4 linked regions of the Homo sapiens genome follow. The protein of the gene in region 2 interacts with the protein of the main gene of each other region in a pairwise test. Each region holds a gene or a part of one and is shown on either strand. Other genes may lie near its edges. The genes, in order: SLC5A5, NOTCH2NLC, FAM221A and PGAP6.

Region 1 (7,715 bases), on a different chromosome or scaffold from region 2:
GCCGTGGAAGGATCTCTATACTGCAGCCAGATAAGCTTCTTCTGCTCACTTGGGGGAACATTAGCCCATCCCTACCCCGGGCACCTCCTCCCATCTCAGATTTGGGCTCTGTTTTGAGTGAGGACTACACAGAGGTGGAAAATCTGCTTACCACGTTGCTCAGTCATTGATTTGATTTTATATATATATATACACACACACACACACACACACACACATATACATATATATATATTTTTTTGAGACATAGTCTTGCTCTGTCACTCAGGCTGGAATGCAGTGGCGTGATCTCACTGCAACCTCTGCCTCCCAGGTTCAAGCGATTCTCCTGCCTCAGCCTCCCGAGTACCTGGGACTACAGGCGCCCGCCACCACACCCGGCTAATTTTTGTATTTTTAGTAGAGATGGGGTTTCACCATGTTGGCCAGTCTGGTCTTGAACTCTTGACCTCGAGTGATCTGCCCGCCTCAGCCTCCCGAAGTGCTGGGATTACAGGCATGAGACGCCACACCCGTCCAGTCATCGATTTTAAAGTTGTAATGGCCAGTTTTAAGTCCAAATCTAAAGGTGTCCAATCCCAACAGCGGGCACAGAGGACCAGGTCTCCAAGGGGTGGAGAGAAGCGGGATCAGAAGGTGTGTATGAGGCCGGGCGCAGTGGCTCACGCCTATAATCCCAGCACTTTGGGAAGCTGAGGCAGGCAGATCACTTGAGGTCAGGAGTTCGAGATCAGCCTGACCGACATGGTGAAACCCCGTCTCTACTAAAAATACAAAAGTCAGCCGGGAATGGTGGCACATGCCTGTAATCCCAGCTCCTCCAGAGGCTGAGGAAGGAGAATCTGGGAGGCAGAGGTTTCAGTGAGCCAAGATCGCACCACTGCACTCCAGTCTGGGCGACAGAGCGAGACTCTGCCTTAAAAAAAAAAAAAAAAAAAAAAAAAAAAAAAAAGGTGTATGAGCTCCTGTGGCTGCTGTCACAAACCACTATAGGCCTGGTGGCATCAAACAACAGAAATTTATTCTCTGACAGTTCTAGCAGCCAGAAGTCTGACATCAAGGTGTCAGTAGGGCCATGTTCCCTCTAAAGGCTCTAAGAAATAATGCATCTCATGCCCCCCTCCTGATTTCTGGTTGTTGCTGGCAATCCTTGGGTTCTCCGACTCGTAGATGCATTGATCCAACCACTGCCTCTGTCTTCACGTGGCATCTTCCCCATGTGTTTCTCTGCATCTCTTCTCTACTTCATATGAGGAACCAGTCACTGGATTCATCCATCCTCCTCCAGTAATACCTCTTTTAATTTAACCAGTTACACCTGCAAAGACCCTATTTCCAAGTAAGCTCATGTTCTGAGGTTCTGGGTAGACATAAATTTTGGGGGGACACAACCCAATTCGAGAGCCTCCATTGTCAGGTGAGGAGGGGACGCTAGCATGCTCAGGATGATGGGAGCCATGGCAGGTGTGTGGGCCAAGGTTGGAGGCCATGTGGGGTCTGAATCATCCCCTCCCCAATCCCAGGAAGAAAATAAGAAAGAGGTGGGGCGCGGTGGCTCACCCCTGTAATCCCAGCCCTTTGGGAGGCCAAGGCAGGAGGATCACCTGAGATCAGGAGTTTGAGACCAGCCTGGCCAACATGGCAAAACCCCGTCTCTACAAAAATACAAAATTACAAAAATTACCTGGGCGTGGTGGCTTTCTATTATAGATTGAGAAAAACGGTAGGCTGGGCATGGTAGCTTACGCCTGTAACCCAGCACTTTGGGAGGCCGAGGCAGGTGGATCACTTGAGGTCAGGAGTTCGAGACCAGCCTGACCAACATGGTGAAACCCTGTCTCTACTAAAAATACAAAAAGTTGGCTGGGCATGGTGGTGGGCACCTACAATCCCAGCTACTCAAGAGGCTGAGGCAGGAGAATCACTTGAGCCTGGGAGGCAGAGGTTGCAGTGAGCCGAGATCACACCACTGCACTCCAGCCTGGGTGACAGAGCATGACCCTGTCTCAAAAAAAAAAAAAAAAAAAAAAGAGAGAGAGAAAAACCCAGCCTTATTTGGGGGGAGCCGTCAGGGCTGCAGCGTCTAATACTGGGGACGGTTGAAGCAAGGGGCTGGATTTAAAAAATGACCTCCCGGAGGCAGGGCCTCCCCATAGGGTAGGGTATTGTAGTCCTGAACTCATTTGCATACAAGGCAATCCAGCCAATCAGAGCCCAAGGCCATGGGCCCGTTGTCTGGGTTTGGCCCATCCTGAGGTTCCATCCCAGGGTGTCAGTCCCGCGGCTGGCCCTGTCCTCAGAGGTTTGTCTCCTGCTGGTCTCGACCACCATCATGTCCAACACAGGGGGTCCAAGAGCCAGCCCCCTCCAGCTCCTTCTGCCCCAAGAAAAACAGACGATCCTCATTGGTGGGCAGGAAGCCAGGGGGCTTCTTGTTTCCAGTGGGGAGTTCTTCAGGACCCTGGGGAAAAGTGGGAAAAAGAGACCCCATCAGAGACCCTGTCCCCACCCTGTTCCGTGTCAGCTCATCTCCCAGATGGGCTACTGATGACCTGGCGGGACGGGGCGTGCACAGAATTGCATACTATCCCCTTGCTCAGTGCACGGGCCAGTCCTGCCCGCTCTGCCTCCAAAATTTCCATGCGCTTCTCTTCCCCACTCACATGTCACCTACAGCCCAGGCCATCAACGCTTTCTCAGATGCCTGCTATAGTTCCTCCCTCCTTTCTCTGCTTCTCTGCCTGTTCACCTTCAAGAAAATAAATATTTCTGGCCGGGCACGGTGGCTCACCCCTGTAATCCTAGCACTTTGGGAGGCCAAGGTGGGCAGATCACTTGAGCCCAGGAGTTTAAGACCAGCCTGGCCAATATGGCAAAACCCCATCTCTACCAAAAATAAAAAAATTAACCAGACTCGGTGGTGCATGCCTATAATCCCAGCTACTCAGGAGGTTGAAAGATGGGAGAATTTCTCGGACCATGGAGGTTGGGGCTGCAGTGAGCCATGGTCATGCCACTACACTCCAGCCTGGGCAATAGAGTGAGTCCCTATCTCAAAAAAAGGAAAAAAAAAAAAGACAAAAAAGAAAAAAAACACACAAATAAAACAAAGACAACAAAAAAGAAAAATAAAATAATAAAGAACAAAAAAAGAGAGAGAAAGAAAAAAAAGAAAAGAAGAGAAAGGAAAAGAAAAGAGGAAAGAAAGAAAAGATAAACACTTCTCTAGGGCAGCTGGAGGGAGCTTTAAACACCTTCAGGCAAACCCCTCCCCTCCCAATCCCCTTCTCAGTCAAAGCTGTTCCTGTCTGTGGCTGGTTCCTCTTCTCCTAACTCAGGGTCAATCAATGTCACCTCTCCCAAGAGGCCACCCCTGACTTCCCTGGCTAAAGTTGCTCCCCATCACAGCATCCGGTTTTATTATCCTTTGAATATTTATCATGCTGAGACCCTACACGTTTTTCTTTTTAGCTTGCTCTCTCTCTCTCTCTCTCTCTCTCTCTCTCTCTCTCTCTCTCTCTGTCTTTTCTTTCTTTCTGACAGTGTCTGGCTGTTGTTGCCCAGGCTGGAGTGCAATGGCACAATCTCTGCTCTCTGCAACCTCCACCTCCTGAGTTCAATCGATTCTCCTGCCTCAGCCTTCCGAATAGCTGGAATTATAGGCATGCACCACCACACCCGGCTAATTTTTTGTATTTTTAGTAGAGATGGGGTTTCACCATGTTGGCCAGGGTGGTCTCGAACTCCTGACCTCAGGTGATGCACCTGCCTAAGTCTCCCAAAGTGCTGGGATTACAGGGGTGAGCCATCACGCCTGGCTCTTTCCTTTCCTTCCTTCTTTTCCCTCCCTCCCTCCCTTCCTGCTTTCCTATCTTTTTGACGAAGTCTTGCTCTGTCACCCAGGCTGGAATGCAGTGGCGCGATCTCAGCTCACTACAACCTCTACCTCCCGGGTTCAATTGTTCAATTCTTCTGCCTCATTCCACTGAGTAGCTGGGATTACAGGCACACGCCACCATGCCCGGCTAATTTTTGTATTTTTAGTAGAGACAGGGTTTTGCCATGTTCGACAGGCTGGTCTTGAACTCCTGGCCTCAAGCGATCCACCTCAACCTCCCAAAGTGCTGGGATTACAGGCGTGAGCTACCGTGCCCGGCCTGACAGCATCTGGTTGTATTATCTTTTGAATGCTTATCACATACTGAGACAGACCCTACATGTTTCTCTTTTTAGTTTTCACCTGCCCCTGCTAGATGAGGGTGGGGTGGGGGTCTTAGACCATAGCCCAGAGCAGGACTGGGTACACAGCAGGTGCTCAATAAATGAGAGAATGGAACAGGGATTCCAAAACAGGGGTAGGCATGGGATCAGGTCCCCCAGGGACAGCATTTTCCAAACTCTGGGAATTCACAAAGCAACCACGCGGTTTTAGCCAAAATCGGTTTACCATCTGTTGTGTTTCTTATGTAAGATTTTTTCCCCAAGTTGACTCACTTTTGAATTAAGTAATTTTATTTTAAGAAGAGACTTTACATCAATACCCTAACAGCACACCAGTTTCACCTGCCAAAGATTGGAAGTCACTGTAAAAACAGATAACGACAAAAAGGAATAGTATTCAACTTTGTTCAGTCCTTATGAAGGGAGATAACAAAAACTTGAAGATGAGGCTGGGCTCGGTGGCTCATGCCTGTCATCCCAGCACTTTGGGGGTCTAAGGTGGGTGGATCATTTGAGGTCAGGAGTTCGAGACCAGCCTGGGCAACATGGTGAAACCCCATCTCTACTAAAAACATAAAAATTAGCTGGGTGCGGTGGCATGCGCCTGTAGTAGCAACTACTCAGGAGGCTGAGGCAGGAGAATCGCTTGAACTCGGGATGTGGAGGTTGCAGTGAGCCGAGATTGCACCACTGCACTCCAGCCTGGGCAACAGAGCGAGACTCTGTCTCAAAAAACAAACAAACAAAAAGGAATAGTATTAAACTCTGTTCAGTCCTTGTGAAGGGAGATAAAAACTGTTGAGGATGAATCAGCTCCCAATAGAGTCTTTTGACTGGAGATAATGAGCGATGGAGAAAGGTGCTGATATACCATGTCCCTCCCCTGAGCTGTGGTCACGTCCTAAAGTCACTTGGCTGCCTCTAGATCTGGGAACCCAGCCTAAGACTGACCTTGACCAAGTTGTCATCCAGGATGGCCACTTCTTCCTTGGGGGCCACTGATGCTGTCTGCCGTGCGAGGTCCCACCACAACAATCCCGGGGCCAGGGTGCTGCGCTTGGTGGGGCCTGAGAGGCGGGGAGAAATGGAGAAATCCAGGCATTCAGTGAAGGGGTCATGGGGGTTGGAGACCAGGTCCTGGGAAGGAGAAAGGAGATCCCTGGTCTATGAAGTCTAACAGGCTCCAGTCCCACTAAGGGACCCTGGCAAGCCTCTGAGCCTCAGTTTCCTCATCTACACAGTGAAGTTGTAATAAAACATCAGTGAGGCCAGGTATGGTGGCTCATAATTGCACTTTGGGAGTCTAAGGCAATAGGATTGCTTAGAGTTGCCCAGTAGTTGGAGACCAGCCTAGGCAACATAGCAAGAACCCATCTCTACAAAATATTAAAAAATTAGCCAGGCATGGTGGTGTGTGCCTCTAGTCTCAGCTACTTGGGAGGCTGAGGCAGGAGGATTGCTTGAGCCCAAGAGGTCGAGGCTGCAGTGAGCCGTCATTGTGCCACTGCACTCCAGCTTGGTGACAGAGTGAGACCCTGTTTCTAAAACAAAACAAAACAAAACAAAACAAAAACATCATTGGAGGTTGGGCACGGTGGCTCACGCCTGTAGTCCCAGCACTTTGGAAGACCAAGGCAGGGGATCACTTGACGTCAGGAGTTCGAGACTAGTCTGGCCAACATGGCGAAACCCCATTTCTACTAAAAATACAAAAATTAGCCAGGCGTGGGGGTGGGCGCTTGTAATCCCAGCTACTCGGGAGGCTGAGGTAAGAGAATTGCTTGAACCCGGGAGTCAGAGGTTGCAGTGAGCCAACATCGCACCATTGCACTCCAGCCTGGGCGACCAGAGTGAAACTCCATCTCAAAAAAACAAAACAAAACAAAACAAAGACATTAATGGATGGCTGGGAGGGTCCAGCACACGGTTCCATTCACTGCTGCATCCCCAGTGCCTAAAATAGCGTCCAGCACAGAGGAGGACTCGATAAAGGCCTGATGACTGTGAAGTCTGAGACTCAAGAAGTGTGAGCAGGTACTGTTATCACTACTGACTTTCCCCTCTTTGTCTCCTTCTACTTTTCCGTGGAATTTAGAATTCCCTAACAAGTGCGGAGTCACCGGCAGCTTTAGAAGATATTTCAGCACCAGGGATAGCGCCGCCCGCCCCAACCCATATCCTCTACTGAGGACTTAATCTTGTTGGGGAGAGGAGTTGCAGGCAATGCCTCCGTTTCTGCCTCTGCAAAATAGGGCAAGCTCTGAGAGGTGCAGGGTTGTCAAGAAAGCAACATAGCTTTAAAGGGTGTAAATGTGAGCCGGGCACGTTGGCGCGCACCTGTAGTCTCAGCTACTCGGGAGGATGAGGTGGGAGGATTGCTTTCAGCTCAGGAGTTCAAGGTTGCAGTGAGCCATGATTGTGCCACTGCACTCCAGTCTGGGTAACAGTGAGACCTGTCTCTTTTCTTTCTCTCTCTCTTTCTCTCCTTCTCTCTCTCTCTCTTTCTCTTTCCTTCCTTCCTTCCTTCCTTCCTTCCTTCTTTCTTTCTTTCTTTTAGATGGAGTCTCACTCTCTTGCCCAGGCTGGAGTGCAGTGACGCAATCTTGGCTCACTGCAACCTCCATCTCCCAGGATCAAGCGATTCCCTTACCTCAGCCTCCCAAGTAGCTGGCATTACAGGCGCCTGCCACCATGCCCAGCTAATTTTTTTGTATTTTTAGTAGAGACGGGGTTTCACCATGTTGGCCGGGCTGGTCTTGAACTCCTGACCTCAGGTGATCCACCCGCCTCGGCCTCCCAAAGTGCTGGGATAACAGGCATGAGCCACTACGCCCAGTCGACCCCGTCCCTTTAAAAGAAACTATATATATATACACTTTCTTTTATGTATATATATAGTCATAATTTTTATATATATTCATAATTTCTTTTATGTATATATACACATAAAAGTGTGTATGTATGTGTATATATACACACACACTTCTTTTTTCCTCACAAACTTTTTTTTTCCTTTTAAAAAAATAGGTACAGCCCAGGTGCAGTGGCTCACACCTATAATCCCAGAACTTTGCGAGGCCGAGGTGGGCGGATCACTTGAGCCCAGGAGTTCGAGACACATGGCGAAACTCCGTCTCTACTAAAAATGCAAAATTAGCCAAGCATGGCGGCACACACTTGTAATCCCAGCTACTCGGGAGGCTGTGACATGAGAATCGCTTGAATCTGGGAGGTGGAGGTTGCAATGAACTGAGATCACACCACTGCACTCCAGCCTGGGTGACAGAGTGAGACTCTATCTCAAAAATGATGATGATGATGATGATGATGATGATAATAATAATAATAATAATAATAATAATAAGGTACAAATGTGTACAGCACACAGTGGCAGTTTGGCCAATGGGAGCGTCCTTTCTCCCCTCCCTGCTGGGTGGAGCCTTGAGGCAGAGAGATGAATGGGATGACCTCTGAGGCCACATGCTCTGTTTACC
Region 2 (7,985 bases):
CAGAAATGTCCTCATTCCCCAGGTCTCTTCATGCTAAATATGGTAATAGCTGGCAGACAGCCAGCCCAGTAAATTCCAATGATACTTAAGAAAGCATTCATATGGCCTGAAATTACTCTGAACCAAACACTTGAGACCTGCAGGGCTTCAGCATAGAGCAGTTCAGCTGGAGCAACGAATGTCAAAACCAGCGGGGTGCCTTAAAAACACAAAAGCTTGGAAAAAAAGCAATCTACTCTTCTTTATTGCTACATTCTTTAGCAACAACATTGATCTCCTACCCACTGTGCACACAGCACTGCACTAGGGCAGTGAGAGGCTGGACGGAGGAATGGAAGAAACAGGTGGTGTCCATGGGTTGCCAAAACAACAGGTTGCTTCAGTCAGTTCTGTCCTACAACTAATCAATTTGGTGAGGAAAGGGGGAGAGAATCTTAGTCATCTTGTTCTCTGACCAAGCTAACTGACTAGACCCACTGTACTGGCATTTATCCATTAGGTCAAAGTGTCAGAATTAGCAGTGCATGGTAGACATAGCATTAGTCCTGCCTTTCAGGGATGTTAAATGCTTCAAAAATCTTGGCTATCTAGAAAAGGAGGACAGTAGCCGATTACGTCACCCACCCAAAATCATGTATTTGACTCCAGAACACACTGCTTTTCTCCAACATATTTTTTTATTAAGTATTAAAGTAAATGTCAATTTCCTAGACATATACAGCTGAAAGCATGCTGATTTACGATACAGTCAGATAAGAACTTTCAAGTAGCTACAGAAAATAGCAGTTAACAAATGAATTAACCAATATCATTAGAAACCAAAGGATTAAAAAAAATTAACCTATGAAATGAACAATTTTTATATCAACATTGGTAGCAATTTGATGTTATGTTATATACTGCTAATTATTTCCATACATATTGTGACATATTTAAGACAAAAGACTAACACCCTTAATATTTAAAGAGCTTTTTCAAACCAGTAAGAAAATAATTAAATGAGTAAAAGACACAATTTACCAAAAGAAGTAGAAAAAAAGGCAATACAAACGCCACTGATGATATGAAAAAACATTCAATATCACTGTAATGAGAGAGGCATATTAAGATTAAGTAATATTTACCACTTATCAAATGGTAAAGATTTTTAAAAATAAAACCTAGTGTTGACAATAGTATATTATGTGTGTGTGCATATATATATATGTAGATCTGTTCATAAACTAAAAAAAAAATATATATTATATATATATATATATATAAATAAATCAACAGCTTTTCTAAATCTAAGGGTAAAAAACCAAAGACGTATACCAAAAAATTAATGGCAGCATGATTGTGGACATTTTATTTACGCTTTTCTAGATTCTTCAAACATCCTTAACTACTTTTTCAAACATAATTACTTTTTATATTACAAAAATAAAAAAATCTTGTAAAGGTGCCAGAGAAAATCAGCAAAGTTTAAATATGAGTTAATTATCTGTAAACATAACGAATAATTCTGTTGCTACGTAAACCTACCTTAAACTGTTTCAATGTTTGTTTTTAGTTACAACTATTTTCCTTAACTCTCTTAGAAAGAATATGTCAGAGAAGCCACTACATATTACTTACTTTAAATAGTAACATAATGCCAAAGACTTGCATGAATCTCAGGATACGGTCTTTTACCTAAAATTCCTCATGAAGATTAGAATGCACTTTAAATGTTGTAATAAAGTAAATGCCCTTAATGTTTCTAACTAAAGAAGATCTAGCAAATAAATAAACCCATATTCACAGCAAATAAAAATATAATAAAATAATCGAAATACACATGTCCTCAAACTTCAATGTGTCTTGACAGCGTCTGAACCAAAGCATGTGTAAGGAGAGAATTAAACAAAAATGTCTTTGCTACTTACCACATTTACCATTTAGAGAAGTTAATATATCAGCACTATCTAGTTTTGTGATTATTCATACTTAGAAACTCAACAGAATAGATTAGTGAGTAAACAGTATTCAATTATTCTTATTTGAATGTTGGTTAGGTATACCAATAGAACAACCTCTCCCTGCTAGGTACCCGTTAAAATAGATTATTGAAAATATTTGAGGCTTAAAAACTTCCAGAATCTTCTCACAAAAAAAAAGATGAAAATAAAAAGAGATGAAAAAGAAGCAAACAACAATTTTAAAACATGCCTGCCTCAGAACAAGGCAGTTTATTTTAGAATGTAACCACAGCTTCTTGTACAACACCTTATTCATCAAGCACAACTGTATTTTAAAGGAATGCTATTTGTTAAAAAGACAACATATTTAGGATAAGGTATCTAACTCCAACCACAATATTATCATCATGTTTTCCTTACTTCACAAAATACACACATACATTCATCATATGAATAAACATATATAATAAGGGTGAGAGAGCTACTCTTAACCCAGAAACAGGTTCTGCAACACCCATAGATCCAACCTGTCGTTATGCAACAATGAGTCCATCTTGGCAAGATGTTTGGCTGATGTATTCAAATAACCCAGAGTTCTGCCAGCTGCCAGTATCCTGCAGAAGGAACTGACTCGGAGACCAGAAACTGCCCTAGGCAAGCCTCCAGGGAAAGGTGCTTCAGTCCAATGGAAAGAAAAACCCAGCCCCTCACTGCCTAGCCAGAGGACCCGGGGTACCATGGCTGGAGCGACGTAGCTGGCTGGAAATGCGAGAGGGGCAAGGGACACTAAGGTGAACCCCCAAGAGCTTGTTCAATCATACCTAATAAAGGCCAAACTATTGGGGAGCTAGTAGAACAGGGTTTTGCCAAGACAAGTACAAAAGGGTGAGGGAGATATTAGTATGATTAATCAATGCCACCTGAGGCAGCAACTCTGGGTGTGTCCACACCACACTTCAGTCACTGCCTGGCTGTGACGAGAAGTTCCTTCAGCCACTGCCACTGAGAACTGCATCTTCCAAGGAAGATATTTCCACCATAACTTGTCCTAGTTCAGGCTTGGCATTCGGGACTAAGAACACAGCACTCTCTCTTGCCGCAAACCCACTAACAGACATAATAGACACAACAACATGTGCCAAATTTATATTTACACCCTCACCAGACAAAGGGGTTTTTGTCTTTTCCCCAAGCCAAGTTCTAATACTTCTAAATTACAACAAAGAAAGAGGAAAATGGCAGACAGCTCACGACAGCAGACAAGCCCAGCAAGGGTGAGCTGGAGGTCGCCTTTCCCTGGTGGTATTAAGACCTGAAGTTTACTCCCAAGACCCTATAGATCCGAGTCACCCTGACTGCAGGAAACTGCTTTCAGAGAGCATAGATAAATGATAAAATAACTGTATTTCATATTCCTAATTGTGTGCTTATCTGTCTTGTCTCCATGATGATGTCAGCTCCTTGGGAGCAGGACCATATTTTCTACTTGGTCAATGATTCCCACACATCTAGAAGAGTAGAATACCCTGTACTTGCTACCACATGATGCCAAGGGAAGCACACAAATTAAGTGTGACAACACACCACAATGCTCCCCCAATACACCACTAAGACAGCAGAGCTACAAAGATAGCAAATGTTAGTGCCAAGGGCTAGTGATCCTACCAGTGAATTACATGGAAACCTATGTATTTACATACACAAATTAATACAATAATTCCTTTGCTTTTCTTATTCCAAGCTATGGCTTTATCATCCCCCTTTCTTGGCTTTACTCTCCTTTTTAAGACCACAATGTATGTTCTGCCATACAGATAATATTCTCCTCAAAAAAGAGAGACAGGAGAAAAAACAGATCTACGGCAAACCTCCTACCACTACCAGTGATGCAGTTTGTCCCGTCTCAAGCCTATGAGCATATCCTTTCAGATCTGAAGCCACTTCCTTCTTCCTATCAAGGACAGTATTATCAAGTGTCTTTGTGAGAGGAGCAATCCTGTGCCCCTTCTTGCAGATTGTTTTGTTCTGCTCAAGAAGCCCTAGATTCCTCCTTTATTTTCCTTTCCTTATTTCATTTGCTGCAGCAGCCCAGAAACCCCAAAAGCAGGACCACCAGAAATGAGTGACCTTTATATCTCTCCACACTAACACATCTGAGGGAAACTGCCGACACCAAATATGTGTTCATGAGCTAATGAAGCAGAAATCCTCAAAGGAAGCACCATTTGCAACGGCTGAGGACAGAATTCTTTAGTGGACACCAAAAAGGCTGTGGAACTCCTATGCATTCTAACATCTCAGGTAACATTCTAATGGAGGAATAAGGAGGCTTACAACAAAGTCATACAACACAAACAGAAGTCCGAAAATGCTGGATTTCGCAAATTTCTTTTAAGACAAAACAAACAACTTTACTAACCTTATACCATAGCAGCTTTCTTCTCTGTACTAAGTGAGGCCAGCAAGTAGGAGGCATTTCCAAGGGGGAAAAATGACCACAGGATCTAGCCAAAGCAACCTGTCTCTAATACTCTCAAAAAACAAACAAACAAAAACAAACACTTTGATTTCCCAGATTCACTCTGCAGTGATTCTAAAACTTTCCTAATGTAAGAATCACCTGGCTATTTCTTGAACACACAAATTCCCAGATGACATTCCAGATGCACTGAATCAGAATCTCCATGAGAACACCTGAGCTATTCTTATCATAAGAGAGGTTAGGGAAACACTGCTTGATAAATGTGATTCTCCCACCAGTGCCCACCTGTGCAGGGAGGTATGAAACAAGTAGGGCTAAGATGCTTTACCTGAGCAATCACCCCAGACATGCTCCTCACTGGGTTTGACTCCTTTTATGGAGAGCTGGGTGTCAGCCCAGTAAAGTCTACAGACAAGCATCTCTTTGGGTCCCTATCACCTGCACAGGTCTCAGGACTCTGAGACAAATTTCTGAGTAGATGTCAATGAGGACAAGTCATGAGGAGATGGATTACAGCTGAATATAAGAAGATCTTTCTAAGAATTAGAGCTGGCCAAAGATGGAATAAACTGCTGTGGAGAGCTGTCTACCACAAGAGATGTTCAAGAAGAGAGAAAATATGGTACCTCTTGACTAGAATGTTGTAAACATCAGATCCAGCATGGGATGGACAGAAAGACTAGATGAATTTTAAAGTTCCCGCCAATGCATAAGTCAACAAAGAGGAAAATTTCAGCCACTCCTTAATTAATTAAAAGAGATAGCAAAAAAAGTCTGTGGGTGGGGTCAGCTTTCAACTGATCCTATCTCTTCAAAGGAAAAAAGAACATAGAAACACACTCCAACTCACCATCAGCCTCTCCTATAGAATGTTCTAAAGGTGGGAAAGCAGGAGTCATAGATGCTGTGACTAAGACCTGCCGCTCAGTTGACTCTGAATTTCGGGCACATGCCAGACAAGTTCTGTAGTACAGAGAAGAAATGTGTGTAGCACAGACCTGGCCCTCAAGGATCAAAATCATGTGGCAGAGACAACTCAACACCATGTGATTCTCTCAAATATTTATTCATCATATTTCACCTTTAGTTTTTGTCAGCAGGGTGTTCAGGGGACTCTCTTGGTTCAAAAAAAAAAAAGCAAATATACTTTACTAAATGTACATATTCTCTCAATCCAGTACAAGTTTGCAATATCCAACTCAATGAAAAAAATCTCAAAAAAAATTATCAAAATAAATATAAACTTAGTTAACTCTAATTTTAAAAATAGTATTCCAAAAATGACTAGTCCCCAAAATGATGAAATTACAATAAGGTGTGGCTATTCTGGACAAAATAACAGAAATTGCTGGCCTAGTAATACAGTAATACAGGAAGCAGTGGAAGCAAACTTGAGTGAGAGGCAGGGGGTGGGTGGCAGTGCCTTTGAAGTGAGATTCCAAAGTCAAAGTGACCTTTATAAATTGCAGAAGTGATCAGAAAAAGAAAGAAAGAAACCCCACACACAAAGAAATTCAAAATTACAAGTTTAAATGAAACATCTGGGGAAGGGAAAAATTTGGTTTTTCCCCAAATGTAAGGTAAGCATGACTCCTGCAAATACTATTTTTAAAATGTCTAGGAGTACCACAGTTGTCCAAAATAAGAAAGTGGCTAAAAATAATTGTTCGACTGAACAAGTATTTATTGTGTGCCTATTAGATACCAAGGCATCATGCCAGGTACAGGGGTAGGGTATGGGCATTAGAATAAACACATAAATGAAAATACACGATTCCTTCCTCATGTACGCATTAACAATAAGCACTTGAGGATGTTATAAGAGTTTTTGTGCACATAAGCGCATTTGTACATGAGATGGAAGCAATGTGGACAGTGAATGAGGCACTGGACACCAGAAGAAAGGAATTCTAGTCTCAACTCTAATTGGCTCTGTGACCATGAACAATGAACATCAGAAAATGGAGGACCAAAACAGTGGCTCTCCTACAAGGTCACCAAACCAATTAATAACAGACCTGGAGAAGAATTCTGGTCTTCTGGCTCCTAGTTCAGTGATCTGTCCAAAATACTACACATATGGTAGGCTGACAAAGAAAGAAAAGAAGACCTTTTGGTTTCAAGTCATTTGCAGAGAAAGGGTGGGAAACAAAAACAGGAAAATCAGGAAAGGGTGGAAGGAAAATTAATAGTTCAAATTTAGGCATTCGAACTGAGACATCAAGAAAGGAAGCATGTAACTATGGACTGTGAACACAATATAAAGAAAATGATGTAAAATTTCTTATATCCTTATTCAAATCACGCCTTGCAGTTTTTTACTCTAAAATCATTGCAGACGTATATAGATAAAGGGTCAAAAAACAACATGTATGAATGACATTTAAGGAAAACGAGATAACAGAAGAAAAGGGAAAAGGAGAGGTGGAGAATTTATTATATCATCTAAATATATGAAGCCCTTCTAAAGGGTCAATGCAGACATACTGCACCCAGATAAACAGAAGAAATGACATTATATTCTATATCTCTTACGTCAGCAATTTTAAAATTCTTGAGTCAGAAGTGTTAAACACTGGAATGACTAAGGTTACATTTGTTATGGAAATTTCTTAAATTTAGAAAGACCTCATACACACACCTGAAGGTAAAAAAAAATGTACTTAATCAGTGGGTTGCAACCAAGTTACTTGTCAGAATCACCTGTAAACCTTGAAAAAATATGGATTCTCAAACTTACCTTATCAGAATCCCTGGGTGCTGAGTCCAAGATCCACCCCAACAGATTTTGATGTAGCCAGGACACAGAGTTTTTTTCTACCATAATGGGAGAGGTAGGGAGGAGGATCACTAGGAATGGCAACACAGAGTGGGAACTAGATCAATGCAAATTTTGTGGGCAAAATAGAATTTCTGTGGGTGTGATATTTTTAAAATGTATTGTAAGGCTGCTCTGAACCATCCAAGCATATCCCACTGAATTTAAACATTCTCTAAAGGTCCTGAAGTCAGCAACTACAATCCAGGTGAACCAAAAGTTGCTTCTCTATGTCATAGAAGCCTACAGGAGAGGCAGTAGGGTGGGAATGGAGCAGAGAGATCCCAAGAAGTTATGGGTAAATATTTTTTAAATCTAAACATTCAGAAAAATAAGAGAGACTAGGAATCACTCTCCTCCTCCTCTCCACCACACCAAAAAAAAAAGGAATAATAAGAAAGTGAAAGGAAAAATAGTTTTAGGTTAAATTTCATCACCATCTGAAAGAAAATTACTCCGATTTTGTTTAAGAGAAGAATTCAGCTGAGAAATTATCTAGCAGGCAGCAAAATCAGGGAGTCACTTCCCATTGCAAAGCAAAAGAAAACAAGGAGCAAGAGGATGGTCCTGGATAGCTGTTTAGACAATCAGACATACTGCTAACATCTCCTTGCCTTAGAAACTCCGTGATGTTTAAATTAACAATTGGCCACAAGCCAAACACAGGAGCACTCAAAAGTTTAGAAGGGTGTGCTGTAATTGGTACCTTAGCAAAACACAATAATAAATTAAGAGGATTCAAGAA
Region 3 (6,937 bases), on a different chromosome or scaffold from region 2:
CAGATAAAGCCTTTACAGAATCTCAAGGTAAGGGCAGGCTATTCTCCACTAGAAAATTGGAGGACACGGCTTGTGCCAGCTCAGAGTTCATGGAAACCTGAGGATTCAAGATTCTCAGGCTCACCAACACAAATGTCCCATCCTGTGATTTAGGGTTCCACTGTTTTTGTGTCAGCACTGACTTTGCTGGGGACTAGCAAGGCTGTGCATTCTGTCTCCTCTGCAGCCCTGCCACCTTTACTATTAGATTTGGGCCTCATTGGCAGCACAGTCTGCCCTGCATCTGCAGATGAGTTTCCTGAAAGTGCTACAGAGGGACTCTGGCTTTCACAGCATTCCTTGAGTTAAATGGCTATCATGAGCCTGTGTCATTTTCTTTTTCAAAGCTCCTAAAGCATTTCACAGTAGCAAGTGAATACTTAATCTTTATAATTTCCACTAGTCCCATTTCACTGTAGTGGCACAGCGACTGCATAACCTAGCACTTCACCTGCCACCTGCACTTCATCCAAATCCACTGCAGTAACTGATCCAGTCACAGGATACTATCCTGAGTCTTTGCTGTCAAAGGCCATTCCTGGTACTAACCATCTTAGCCTGAGTTTATCCCTTGCCCAAAAGCAAAGCCTAAGACAAATGTTCTTATACCTGTAAGTGTTGTTATACAAGTAGTTTATTTGGGAAGTGATCTGAGGGAACTAGAGGGAGGGGTAGAGGAGTGGAAAAGGAAAAAAGAAAGATAAGGATATATTATTATTGAGTTGGCCACTGCTATGGGTGACTGGAGCTCAACGATAGGACTTTCTGAGGAAGTTTATGAAATGCATTTCAGAATTGTCTTCCCAACAGACGGGAGAGCACTTATGTATTGGGCTTCCACCTCCCATTAATCAAGAGTGGCCCCAAAGTCACTAGCTCCCCAACATCTTTGGGCTGCATATGTATCATACAGTGGGGTTCTAGTGGGCATCCCAAGCCACAGTGTCAGAAGATCCCTGCAGAAGGAAGCAAGAGAGCCATGACATGCGCCCAAGACAAGGTGCCATCAAATGGCTTCCGCTATCAGAAGCCTGCTGGAAAGTGTTCCACAGCAGTAATGGAGTAAGAAACGGGGCCAAGAGGATTTGCAGTGGCACACAAGATGTGTCCAGTACAGTCATAGACAATGGGTGGTTGACAACACAACGTAAAAATCAGTAGATATCTTCAGCCTGAGAAAGATTGAAAAAAAAAATCAGTAATATCACTAGAAAATGGTTGTAAAATTTTGAGATAGTTTTTATTTGAAAACATAACATTACAAAGTTTGAAAAATAAAAAAATTAATGATTTTAACTATTTTTTTCTTTTGTTCTCTTGTTTTTAACTTACTATTTTGAATGACAAAAAAATGGCTCATATGTTTGTCCAAAACCCTTGATAATATCTTTAATTTTTTAAATACCTGAAACAGTTAAATTATTATGTACTAAAAACATTTACTGTACTCTCAGACAGACTCATATAAAATAACCTCATTTGTCAGGAGAAAGAAAGGTACATACAAAGTAGTAAATTATGAGTTTTGACAAAAGTAATAGGCATTTTTAGTTATTTAAATAAATTAAGGAAACATCCCAAAAGACATTTATACAGTAAAAAAAAAAAGTAAATAATTTCAGGAAAAATAAACTGTATTATTACATTTAAATAAACATGAAAAAGATACTTGGATGATGGTTTTAATTTCTCCAATAGTCTTCATGAAGGTTTTGTAGCTGATGGCAATGGAGCTTTTCCTTTCCACTTAGCAGCCTTTTCCATTTTCATCTGTAAATTTAACATATTTATTGATATAATAACTTGTAAACCATTCTAAAGAAAAAAAACTTGCAGAAAACTCATTCAGATTCATGTCACAGCCATTCCACAGTTATTAAGCTGCTAAATACTAAAGCCAAAATCTGTTAAAGGGACATAATTACACATTTTCAGATGGTTTTATTTTAATTTTACAGAAGCATTTTAATAAAAGTAATATATGAATATTGCTTTAGAGAAAACAATTTCAATTGCCACTAAAATTACAAGTGCTTAAAATGACTAAACTTACATCCAGCCTATGCACATTCCCTACAGAGTTACATAATGCACCTAATCCAGCTGGATTCTCTCTGGAACGTGGACTGCTTTAAGGATAGTTTTCTATAATTCTGGTTTCTATATTCCCACAGTTACCTTTCTGAAAGTCTTTTCCTCCTCCATTGTAGTTAAAGCAAAAAAGCAGCCACTGTGCCCAGATGTGTATTGGGTAATTTTAACGAGTCTGGATACACCTAAAAGCCTCTAAGAAGAATAAATAATACATATTAAGAATTCAAAATAGGCACCAGGCGCGGTGGCTCATGCCTGTAATCCCAGCACTTTGCGAGGCCGAGGCGGGTGGATCACGAGGTCAGGAGATCCAGACCATCCTGGCTAACACAGTGAAACCCCGTCTCTACTAAAAATACAAAAAATTAGCTGGGCATGGTGGTGGGCGCCTGTGGTCCCAGCTACTCGGGAGGCTGAAGCAGGAGAATGGCGTGAACCCGGGAGGCGGAGCTTGCAGTGAGCCGAGATCGCGCCACTGCACTCCAGCCTGGGCGACAGACCAAGACTCCGTCTCAAAAAAAAAAAAAAAAAAAGAGAATTCAAAATATATTCAATCTTTATTTGGCAAATATTTTTAAATAAAAAATAAAGGTACATGTATAAAAAAAGAATTCAAGATACATATAATTTACAAATCTGCTGATATTGATGTTTATTACTGACAATTTTATCTGCGTATTTATCCAATCTTTATGGCCTTCATAAATCAACCAGTGTATTAAATATCATGTTATTCTTTAGCCCTGTTTCTGTGTATTCTAATAAGCCTCAAGGCCTAACACCAACTGTAAGTAAAGACTTTATAAATTATTTTCAAGGATGTTCCACATTCAATGTATAATCATTCTAGTGCTTTTGCTACAAGTAAATGCTTAGTGCAACTGAATTTCCTCAAAAACCTACCCTTTCCTGGTATCGTCTTTCAAAGAAAGCCATATCATCCTCTTCAGGTCTCCTTAATGAAGAAACTTGACTACTTGTACCTACTAACAAGGAAAAAAAATCTAAGTAATGTATTTATATCATTACATATTCCCCTGAAATAAAAGAAAGAAAAGTTTTCTCCTGCTCGGTGATAATGTTTTATTTTTCAAACCAAAAATGGCCTAAATGAATAATTGGTCCTACTACCTCATTCTCTTTTAGAGAGAATGGCATCACAGGACAAAAGTGTTTTTCACTAGCAAACATTCTCCAAATATTCCACAGTTCATATTAAATAGCACCATATAGCTATTCCGTATAAGAGTACACTTAGTTTTGTCCAACTACTTTTTACATTTTATAACTAGAAATCCATGTTACACTTTGAGATAATGCACAAAAGTAATTATTGAGGCTTGGTATAGGCAACCATAAGTAATGATAGTACCTGCTTCAAAATCTTTCAAAACTGAACTATTTTATCCATTTTTTACGGTAATCACTTTGTCAAATGGATCAAGCACTAATTTATATGCTGAAAGGAACTTTTGAAATTGCTTCAGTAGGAAAACATCTGGTTTTCTTGGCAGGTAGCCAAGAGCCTAATTGCATAGAAAAGTACACCTTCATTGCGAGTGAAGGTCTTCACTGGGTCCCTTCATTTCCAAAGCAGACTAGCAACCTGAACACTTGCGCTTCTAGTTTCTAAAGCATATGAATTCACCCTCAATCAGCAACATGTAACTCCAGACAATCACCACAGAGTATAGCTACAGTCTGTCGATTATCTTTGACAAAAGTTTTATTGAGAAGAGTAAGAAGGGATTCTTATTTGAATAAGTGTTATCCACCCATTCCTCTGGAAACTCTGGGTCTATCCCTGGATCATGTGGGACCATTTGAGCCCAGCCTCTTCCAGACTCATCTACATTGAGTTGCATTATAATGGCATATTACCATTTATCTAGTAAAATGGTATATCACAACTCTTCAAAGGTGACTATCAGGCCAGGTGCACTGATTCACGCCTGTAGTCCCAGCACTTTGGGAGGTGGAGGCAGGTGGATTGCTTGAACTCAAGAGTTCGAGACCAGCCTGGGCAACATGGCAAAACCCTGTCTCTACAAAAAATTCAAAATTTAGCTGGACATGGTGGTGCATCCCTATAGTCCCAGCTACTCAGGTGGCTGAGGTGGGAGATCACTTGAGCCAGGTAGGTGGAGGTTGCAGTAAGCCAAGATCACACCACTATACTCCAGCCTGGGTAACAGATCAAGACTCTGTCTCAAAAAAAAAAAAAAAAAAAAAAAAAGGAAAAGGTGACTATCAGAAACAAGCAACTGTCTGCTGTATTTGCTGAAAAAAAGCTTTTACCTTGGTCACTAATCACTGAGGGTCACTATACTGACTTAAAATCCAGCATGCCAGGCCAGGAGCAGTGACACATAGCTATAATCCTAGTGCTTTGGGAAGCTGAGGCAGGAGGCTAGCTTGAGGCCAGGAGTTTGAGACCAGCCTAGTCAACATAGCAAGACCCTGCTGCTGCAAAAAAAAAGTTTTTTTAATTACCCAGGTGTGGGGGCACACCTGTACTCCTAGCTATGTGGAAGGCTGAGGCAGGAAGATCACTTGAGCCCTGGAGTTCAAGGTAACAGTGAGCCATGATCACACCACTGCACACCAGCTTGGACAACAGAGAGAGAACTTGTCTCAAAAAAAAAAAAAAAAAAAATTCCAGCATTGGTGTAACATTCATTAGCACTGAGGAACTCGGGCTTCCTCCTGTCTAATAAAGAAAGCATTTAATTGACTGCACTTTCCTCTGTGTCTTGGCTGCCACTAAACTCAGTCAAAACTGAAGTTTAAACAAAGCAATTACATCAACCTTGAAAGCTGCCACAGCTGTGTCCTTTTCTTGGCTTCTTACTTGTATATATATTTTATCATTATGTACTAAGTTGTATGTTTTAAGGCAAGCAGCCTTAAAATTCCTTGTGGGGAACGTCTAGGTGTATGAAAATACAGATAAAGAAAATTCTCATTTTAAAATATTCTAAAATACTAAATTTTAAATACCTAATAAGTCATACAAATTCATTCTTCCTGTTTTCAGTAAGGAAAATACAGAATACTGGTGCTTAAAAATGAATTCTACTTGCTCTTAATTTATAAATGATAAAACCCTGCTAACCTATGGTTATCACTGGATTACGCCTCTTTGGGAAAACCCAAAGGCAATTAGGCCGCCAGAAGGCCCTCTTATTCAAACACCAGAGCAACAGCATGTACCAGAACAAGGTTTAAAACTTCAAATTATAGTAGTATCAGAATCCTCGACATTCTCGGAGTTAGCTATTTTTCCCAATACAAAATGAAGTTGCTTGCTTTTTCTCAGTGTGTGGCTTACATAAAAGAAAGTAAAATGATAGCTTAACTTGAAGTTAAATTATCGTAATAATGAAAAAAAGAGAGATGCCTAGAAAACAAATCAAAGCTCCATATTCCAATTTACTACATCCAAAAACAGTTCTAAACTTCATTTCATTACCATCTGTTAACGTTTCTGGAGAAGAACTAGATGATGCTTGAAATGCTTTTAGGAATGGGCTGTCTACTGCCGTAATGGGAGATTCTAAAAATTCAACTGAAGGTACACCTGAGAAAACAATACATGGAGAATAAAAATTAAATATTTACAGGGATACAAACAAGTTATTACTTCTAATGTAAAATAAATTGGAACCTCAGCAGAATTATTAGAAATTCTTTCTATAAAAAAAAAATTTTAGACTGGGTGTAATGGCTCATGCCTGTAATGCCAACACTTTGGAAAGCCAAAGCAAGAGGATTACTTGAGGCCAGGAGTTCAAGACCAGTCTTGGTAACATAGGGAGACCCCATCTCTACCAAAAAAAAAAAAATACATAAATTAGTTGGACATGGTGGTGTGTGCCTGTAGCCCTACCTACTTGGAAGGGTAAAGCAGGAAGATCATTTGAGCCCAGGAATTTGAGGCTGCAGTGAGCTATGATCACATCACTTCACTGGATCCGGCCTGGGCAACACTGTGAGACTCTTTTTATTTAGATTTTTGTCTGACATATAAAGTAAAAGCAAATGGGTAAAAGTATTCTTCTGCACATTTCTGAGAACTTTTTCACAGAAAAAAAGAATATTATGTACCTATGTTAGCATAGAAGTTCAAAACCCTAATATATAATAGTTATAAAACACTATCAAAAGCAAGACATTCACAATAAGGAACCTCTGGCTGAAAAGGGTAGAATAAGTGTATTTTTACTCTATTCCTTACTAGGAAACCATCTAAAAACAAAGTATGAAAAATAAAGAAGAAAGCACCCTCTTCAATGAAATGAGGAAACATCCACAACTCCAAACCATAAACTACAAAGACTAATTGCTAAATATATTGACTTTTGGACCAAAAGGAAGGAAGCTGCAGAGAAAATGTGTAGCTGCTCTATCTTCTTCACAAACCACCACCTTTCCCCTACACTGCTATCTCTACACCACAGGTGGTCCTAATTGGGTTAGAAGTTAGCCCCATCTTATAACATAAACAGTGTGGGACGATTGCTCAGTCTCTCCCCGCTCCTGGCCCCAGTGGCTTCCATGGGGCATGTGGGAACATGGGAGAAGGGGCTCTGGCCCACGCACGTCCTTGTGCTGCCCTCTGGCGGCTGCATGTGCTACTGATCTCAAATGCTCAACTTGTATTTAATAAGTTGGTCTCTCAGCTTGATAGGGCCTGGTAGCCTCATGCTTGCTCCGACTATAAGTACAGACTCCCTCAATACCTGTCACTTCCTCTATTGAGTCCCCGAGCTTAGGGAACCCACCTCCAGCTCTGCCCCCTGCT
Region 4 (7,990 bases), on a different chromosome or scaffold from region 2:
CATCGCCACCCACACTGCCATCCCCACCCGCACTGCCATCGCCACCCACACTGCCATCGCCACCCGCACTGCCATCGCCACTCTGACTGCCATCCCCACCCGCACTGCCACCCGGACCCCCTCCAACCTTAGAAGACTACACTCCCCATGGCCAACCCAGGTCGAAGCCGAAGGACCCAGCAGGTGTCAGGAAGGAGCCCCCGCCCCTCATCACAGATGCCCTGGATATCAAGGCACGGTCCTCCCACCTCCTCTCAGCCTCCCACATCTCCATCCCTGGATGGGTTGGCTGCCTGCTTGGGCTATGATGACTTTGGACACGGCGAGACCGGAGCCCAAATTCCCCTTACCCAGAGGGAGATACTGCATGTGGGAGGGACCCAGGCCAGAAGCCTGGCCAGTCATGAGAACAAGGGGACAGCTGCCCTCTGCGTTCCAAGCGGGCAAGGCTCCTAACTGTCCTCAGGGAACGCACCCACGCCTGGTGCGGGGATGGAGAAGGGCCCGTGGGAGACATCCTGCTCATGGCCCCAGGCGAGGACTCAGGCTCTCACCCCCAGCCCCCCGTGCCAGCTCCAGCCTCGTGCCCTTGCGACCTTGGGCATCCTTCCCTCCCTGGGTCCCAGCCTTCTCCTGGGTAGGTCAGGGCGGAGGGCACATCCCTTTGGGGGCCCCTCCCTCCGAGGTTAATTAACGACAAAGGCTTCAGAAGGAAAAGCACAGTGGACACAGCAGGGGGCGGGACCCTCCCCTCTGCTGCAGCTCCCCCTCCCCACACACTCAGGAGCGCTGCCTAGGTCTCACTGGAGAGTGGCTGGCTCAGGCCCAGGCCCCTCCTGAGGAGGGAGACAGGTGAGCAGCAGGCTCTCCTGCCAGCCTCGTGACCCTCCCATAGAGGCACCAGAAGAAACGATACACCTGCCAATAGCAGCCTGTCGGCAAATCCAGGCCAAGCTCCAGGGGAACCTGGCGTGGCGACTGGGCAGGGGCTGGCCAGGCTCCACCCACGACGCACTCCAGGCTTTCCAGGTGTCTGCTGGCCACCAGGTCCCACCCACCAGGCTGTGGCCTGATAATGTGGGCAGAGAAAGCTCAAGTGCTGGGAGCTGAAGCAGGACAGCCCCCCAGGACCACGGTGTCCCGGAGAAAGCCGGCCTCTGCGGGGGCAGGCAGGGGAGGCCACCTGCAGCACACACAGCCCCTGGGCTGCTGGGGCAAAGCCCTCAGCCCCTCTGGCCCTGGAGCGCCAGCCTGAGGGCACCTAGAACCCAGCTGGTGGCTGTGAAGTTTCAGCAGGTACACAGAGATAAGAGATCTGTTCAAGGTTGTCCTAACACCCAGTCCCCGACTCCCAGGGCTCACAGCCCCTCCAGGCCTCTCCCAGGGCTCTGCAGCCCAAGCTCCCTGCCCAAGTTGCCCACACATACCAGGCTGTTAGGGGTGCTCTGAGCCGAGGTGACCACAGGGTGAGGAGGGCCAGCTACACAGCCCCCTGCCTGCCCCACAGCCCCTCCACGGACACAGGGCTGGGTGGGGAAGGTGGTAATGCAAGTCCCTGGCCCTGTCCTGGGAACCTGAGTGAAGACCCCAGACCCACGTCCTCCAAACCGGGACAGGCACCCATGGGAGACCCTGACCACCCACAACGCCACAGAGCACTTACTCCTCGGCAGGCTGGGAGGAGTGAGGGGCTGAGCCAGCACACCAGGCCTCTCCACTGTCCACACACAGGGGTTCCATCTCCCAGGAACCCCTCACCAGGCCTGAGTTCTGGGACAGGAGAATTTCCTTTGCCAGTTTCCAACGGAGTAAGGTTTTGGTATTTCTGAGGGTCTCACTCTGTCACCCAGGCTAGAGTGCAGTGCCATGAACACGGCTCACCGCAGCCTCAGCTTCCTATGTAACTGGAACCGCAGGCTTACATTACCACACCCAGGTTATTTTTTTTTCTTTCTGTCTTTCTTTTTTTTTTTTGAGATGGAGTCTCGCTCTGTTGTCCAGGCTGGAGTGCAATGGAGCGACTTCGGCTCACCGCAACCTCTGCCTCCCGGGTTCAAGCGATTCTCCTGCCTCAGCCTCCCGAGTGGCTGGGATTACAGGCATGCGCCACCACTGCCGGCTAATTTTGTATTCTTAGTAGAGAAGGGGGTTTCTCCATGTTGGTCAGGCTGGTCTCGAACTCCTGACCTCAGGTGATCCACCCGCCTCAGCCTCCCAAAGTGCGGGATTGCAGGCGTGAGCTTCGCGCCTGGCCATGGAGCAATTTAATCCGGGGCACGGTCCTCGGGGAAAACTGCCTTTCATCTCTACCTGTGCCAAGCTCAGAAAGCAGGAGGCACAGCCCCCGAAAGAAACAGGAGCTCAAAGGAGCATTATTTCAGGGGCAGGGGAGGGGAGGGGCTGGGGGCCGGGAAGTCGGGGAACAGCACCGCATCAGCTGCCGGGCACCTGGGCACCCGCGTGGCTGGGGACGTGTGGGAACTTCCAGCCGGCCAGAAAGGACACGGCCCCTCCAGAGTCCCAGGCCACAGAGGCCGGGGCAAGTCCTCACCATCTCAGGGTGGCCAAGGCCTGACGGTCTCCACACCCACGTCCCTACCCCGTGGAAGGGCTACGCCTTCTCCCTGGTCCAGCCGCCTCCTTGGACCTCAGTCAGGGACGGGGACCCTCAGGGAACAGAAATGCAAAGGGAGCCCGGCGAGTTTCCCAACAAGAGGGGAGAGGGGCGCCCTTTCCTCAGCCCCTCTTCCGCCAGCTGGGAGTCCCTCCTCCCAGAAGCCGGGCCGGCGGCAGGAAGCGGCCGTACCAGGGCTGGGGGTCACTGCGGAAGGGCTGGAGCCATGACGCCCACGGGCCCCCGCTACAGGGTCTAACAACTTTCTCCCGGCTCTGCCCCTCTCTCAGGCCGGACCCGGCCGGTGAGCTCACGGCCCAGCCACTCCTCCCAGCTGGAGTCCCGGGCAGAGTCCCCTGGGCCCCTCCACTTCCCCGCGCCGGGCGCGCCGGACCTGGGCGCTCTGGGAGGAGGAGGGAGGGGAGGGGGCGCTCCAGGGGCCGATGTGGCCCAACCCCGATCGGGGGACCGAGGAGGAAGCGCGGGGTCCCGTCCGCCTCGACCCCTAGGACACGAAGCGCCCCAAAGGGCCACTGTGCACCCCCAACCCGCGGCGGGGACCCCCAACCCCGCGCCGGCGCCAGATGAGCGCACAGGTGCGCCCGGGGTGTCACAATCCCGCCCCGCCCGCAGCCCCGGCCCCACGCCCCCGATGGCGCCCGCGCCTCCCGCTCACCGCTCTTCCCGCTGTAGCCGGCGGAGGCAGGCGGGGGCCGGGCAAGCAGCAGCAGCAGCAGCGGCCCCGCCACCACCGCGGCCACCGCCTCGCCCCCGGTCCCGGTGCCAGCCCGGCCCATGGCTCCGCGCTCGGCCCGGCGCTACCCGGCCCGCGTCCCGCGCCGCCGGCCCCCGCCGCCGCCCGGGCAGCCTCTGCCGCCTCCGCCTCTGCCGCCTCCGCCTCTGCCCCCGGCGCCCATGGCCCGGCCGGTCCCCGCCGCCGTCGCCCCGGGCACTTCCGCCCGCAGGCCCCGCCCCGCAGGCCGAGCCGGGAAGGCGAGGGCGGGGTCGGGGGGCGGGACCGGGGGGGGCGCGGACGCCGGGGGGAGGGGTCACGTGGGGCGCCGGTAGGGGGGAGGGGTCACGTGGGGCGCGCGGGGGACGGACCGGGGCGCGCGCGGTCCGGGGGGACGCTGGAGGGAGGGCGCGGGATGGAGGGATCGCGGGGGTCCCAGGACGGAGAGGTCGCGCCGGGCGCGCTCGGAACACGCAGGAAATTCTCCCCGAGGCGTGGGCTCCGCGGGGCTTCCCCGCCGGTTCGCTGAGTCCCAGCTCCGCTCGGCCGGGACCTCCGTGGCAGGCTCGGGGAGCCCGCGGGGGGCAGAGGCGCCGACCTCCGCCTGGGACCGAGAGGAACCCGCGCCCTGCCCTGCCCCGCCCGGCGCGCGTGGGCCTGAGTCAGGCGCCTCAGCACGGGGACCCCCGGGCCGGCCTTCACGCCGCAGAGCCGCTGCAGGTGCGTGTCAGATCCACGCTTTTATGCACAGACGAGAAGGCTGCTTGTGTTTAGGGACTGTAGTACCCGATCGGGGTGGCGGTTCACACGGGTGCGTGGCATCAACTCCCGGCGCTTTGCACCTGGATGGATTCCCACCATGTAAGATTTGAGCCGAAAAAAGGAAGCGATAAAGCCTAGAAAACTCGGGGAAGCTTTTTCCGTCTTAGGGCCAAGTCGGCTTTTCCAAGCGTGGCACAGAGTCCAGAAGTTCCGCCGCGTCGTGGGTGGGAGGGGGGTGGGGGCGTCTGCAAAGCCAAACTGCATAAGCGAAGTCCAAAAGACGAGCCCCCGACTGGGAGGTGGGGGACACAGCTTGCAGCTCACACCGCAGAGCTCACCTTAATAAGACTAGTAACAGTGCAGTAATAAACAGCTCTAAATCAATCACAGAAACGCTCCCCTAGAAAATACTGAAGGACAGCTGCCAGGGATACGCTGATCCTCCTCCCTCAGCGCAGAAATGCAAATTAAAAACTACTCCAGCTACTCCGGAGGCTGAGGCCAGAGAATCGCCTGAACCCGGGAAGCGGAGGTTGCAGTGAGCCGAGATCGCGCCACCGCACTCCAGCCTGGGCGACAGAGCGAGACTCCGTCTCAAAAAACAAAAACACAAAAACAAAAACAAAAACAAAAAACAAAACACTAAAGTGTCCTTCCCAGGATGTGAGGGTAAAAAGTTTAAAAAAAAAAAAAATTAAAGGAAAACCCCATTAAAGTGACTTCTTTTTCCTTTCACCTAACACATTGGCAAATAAAAACTGTACTAACAGGTGAGACTGTGGCCCACAGACACTGCTTGCAGCAGGCAGAGGATGTGGGAGCCTCGTGGGAACCCCCCCGACTTGTCCACTGAAGTAACAGCAGCAATGACCTTCCCTCGGGAATTCCACCTCTGCGTTTTTCCCTCCAGGTACGTTCACGGAAGTGGCACACTGCATGCGTCCAGTGAGTCAATGTGGCACCGCCTACATGCGTGTCACTGGCCGGTGGGACATTCAAATCATTCATACGGGGTCTAAACGAGACAGAGCGTGGCCGAGACAGGAAAGACAGGAAGCGCTGTGCTGCTTGGAAATGGTCCACCAGGTGCAGCAGTAGCTGCAAGAAAGGAACAGGAAGAACGGTGTGTTCAAAGCTCTACCATTTGTGTAGAAAAGGGAGAAAAACACGTTTCCTTTGTGTGTGTCAAAGGCATCGAATGTCTGGAATGATCCAGCACCGGCTACACTGGTTGACCTTGGAGGAGGAGAGGCGGGGTGGGGATGGGGATGGCCGCAGGGACCATACCTGTTTGTACCTTTTGAACGCCGCAGCGGGTGGTGAGGGTTTACGGAGCGGGGGAGGGGAAGCTGACTCCACGAGCCCAGACCCCTGAAGGCCAGAGCAGCGGAGGTGGAGGGTGTTGGCCGGGGAGGAAGGAAGCCCCGGCTGAGCCTTAAAGAGACCCTTTGTTTCCCGGGAATCCCAGCTGGGCCGTCCTCAGCCCCGACTGAGGGGAAAGGGGGGCTCCCAGGGGTTCTCATTTTAAAGGCACGGAGGTCAGATTGCAGATTTTGCTGAGCCGTGATTTGAGTGTGCTGTGCCGGACTGCACCCAGCAACCAAGGTCAGCACCAGCACCCAGGACTGCTCCAGACCCAGTCCCTGCTCCAGGCTGGGCCCAAGCCCCCCTCCTCCCACTGCCCTCCCCTGAGTGAGTCACCTTAGTCTGAGGTTCCTGTGCCCCAAGTCACCCACCGGAGAGGGAGAGAAGCGGCAGAGCCCCCACTTCCAGTGCTCCAGCTGAGGGCTGGTGAACTTGAAGGTGGGTAAGAATCCCCAGACGGAAGTCCAGAGACGTCTGCTAAGTCACAGAGTGTTGGCAATGGAGAGACTCTTCTGTAACAGGAAACACAGCTCAGTCAGGCTACTGGTCAGGGAAACAAAACAAGCCACTTTGTCAAAAAACAGCCACGCAGCCCTTGCCACAACAGATGCTCACACTTTGCTGGCAGGCATGTGAACCCCCTCAACCTTCTGAAAATTATTGTGCCAACATTAAAATGTAATGGAGAGGGCCGGGCGCGGTGTCTCACGCCTGTAATCCCAGTACTTTGGGAGGCTGAGGCCGGCGGATCACGAGGTCAGGAGATCGAGACCATCCTGGGCTAACATGGTGAAACCCCTTCTCTACTAAAAATATAAAAAGTTAGCCGGGCGTGGTGGCAGGTGCCTGTAGTCCCAGCTACTCCAGAGGCTGAGGCAGGAGAATGGCGTGAACCCAGGAGGTGGAGGTTGCAGTGAGCCAAGATTGCGCCACTGCACTCCAGCCTGGGCGACAGAGCGAGACTCCATCTCAAAAAAAAAAAAAAAGTAACGGAGAGGCCGTACGCGGTGGCTAATGCCTATAATCCCAGCACTTTGGGAGGCTAAGGTGGGCGGGTCACCTGAGGTCAGGAGTTTAAGATCAGCCTGGCCAACATGGCGAATTATTTTTGTCTCTACTAAAAATATAAAAATTAGCCAGGCATGGTGACATGAGCCTGTAATCCCAGCTACTCAGGAGGCTGAGGCAGGAGAATCACTTGAACCCGGGAGGTGGAGCTTGCAGTGAGCAGGGATCAGGCCACTGCACTCCAGCCTGGGCAACCAGAGCAAGTCTCCATCTCAAAAAAAAAAAAAATGTAATGGAGAACACTAAGGCCTAGAGACAGACACACAAGGATGTTTGCAGCAGAACTGCTTGTATTTGGAAAAACCTGGGCGCTCCATGAGGGCAATGGGTAAATAAATCATGCTATAATATACTCTGATTTTTTTTTTTTTTTTTTTTTTGAGACGGAGCCTCACTGTCGCCCAGGCTGGAGTGCAGTGATGCGATCTCGGCTCACGCAAGCTCCACCTCCCGGGTTCACGCCATTCTCCTGCCTCAGCCTCCCGAGTTGCTGGGACTACAGGCGCCCGCTACCATTCCTGGCTAATTTTTTTTGTTTTTAGTAGAGATGGGATTTCACCCTGTTAGCCAGGATGGTCTCGATCTCCTGACCTCATGATCCGCCCGCCTCGGCCTCCCAAAATGCTGGGATTACAGGCATGAGCCACAGCGCCCGGCCTACTCTGATTTTTTTTTTTTTTTTTTTTTTTTGAGATGGAATCTCGCTCTGTCGCCCAGGCTGGAGTGCAGTGGCGCGATCCTGGCTCACTGCAAGCTCCGCCTCCCAGGTTCACGCCATTCTCCTGCCTCAGCCTCCCGAGTAGCTGGGACTACAGGCGCCTGCCAACACACCCGGCTAATTTTTTGTATTTTTAGTAGAGACGGGGTTTCACCATGTTAGCCAGGATGGTCTCGATTTCCTGACCTCGTGATCTGCCCATCTCAGCCTCTCAAAGTGCTGGGATTACAGGCGTGAGCCACCGCGCCCGGCCTACTCTGAATATTTATGCAACTTTTAGATGGGTCTATAAATGTGTCTTCAGAAGGAATGTCAGTAAAGTGAAAAATCCAGTTGCTGGATAACAGGGACGCATCGTATTTCCAAACAAACAGGAAGACCCTCAAGCCCCCTCCCCAGGTCCCCCTCTAGTGAGCCTGGGTGAGGGTAGACTCCAGCTGCCTGCAGCCTGGCCGGAGGGGAGGGTTGCTGGGTGTGGGAGCAGCTTTCCACAGTCGGTGTGCTCTTCGCCCAGCAGCAATAAGCATTATTATAGTTGTCTTGGATAAAAATATCAAAAGTTAAATAAAAGCAAAAAAAAAAAGCCGTAATCCAATTTTCTCCAAATAACCACCCTGTGCACCTCCTGCAAATGCTTCCTGTGTGCAAGACTGTGTGAGGACCCCTCTCTCTCTGTGGACACTCTCCCAGGCTCTGCAGGTTGAAAGGAGTTTCCCTCTGTCTGTTCATG

What was found.
Region 1: the proteins of NOTCH2NLC (region 2) and SLC5A5 interact in binary tests that used the Homo sapiens proteins (3 or more experiments, as listed by UniProt).
Region 3: the proteins of NOTCH2NLC (region 2) and FAM221A interact in binary tests that used the Homo sapiens proteins (3 or more experiments, as listed by UniProt).
Region 4: the proteins of NOTCH2NLC (region 2) and PGAP6 interact in binary tests that used the Homo sapiens proteins (3 or more experiments, as listed by UniProt).

What each region holds. Positions count from the first base shown.
Region 1 is NC_000019.10:17,888,459-17,896,173, reverse strand, and holds the end of SLC5A5 (sodium/iodide cotransporter), read right to left. Parts: intron 5,289-7,715; coding exon 5,173-5,288; intron 2,462-5,172; coding exon 2,297-2,461; 3' UTR 1,000-2,296; downstream 1-999. UniProt on the Homo sapiens protein: Sodium:iodide symporter that mediates the transport of iodide into the thyroid gland. Can also mediate the transport of chlorate, thiocynate, nitrate and selenocynate.
Region 2 is NC_000001.11:149,393,390-149,401,374, reverse strand, and holds part of NOTCH2NLC (notch homolog 2 N-terminal-like protein C), read right to left. Parts: intron 1-7,985. UniProt on the Homo sapiens protein: Human-specific protein that promotes neural progenitor proliferation and evolutionary expansion of the brain neocortex by regulating the Notch signaling pathway.
Region 3 is NC_000007.14:23,696,968-23,703,904, reverse strand, and holds the end of FAM221A (protein FAM221A), read right to left. Parts: intron 5,714-6,937; coding exon 5,606-5,713; intron 3,120-5,605; coding exon 3,037-3,119; intron 1,810-3,036; coding exon 1,741-1,809; 3' UTR 1,255-1,740; downstream 1-1,254.
Region 4 is NC_000016.10:378,411-386,400, forward strand, and holds the start of PGAP6 (post-GPI attachment to proteins factor 6 precursor), read right to left. Parts: upstream 3,569-7,990; 5' UTR 3,412-3,568; coding exon 3,291-3,411; intron 1-3,290. UniProt on the Homo sapiens protein: Involved in the lipid remodeling steps of GPI-anchor maturation. Lipid remodeling steps consist in the generation of 2 saturated fatty chains at the sn-2 position of GPI-anchor proteins (GPI-AP).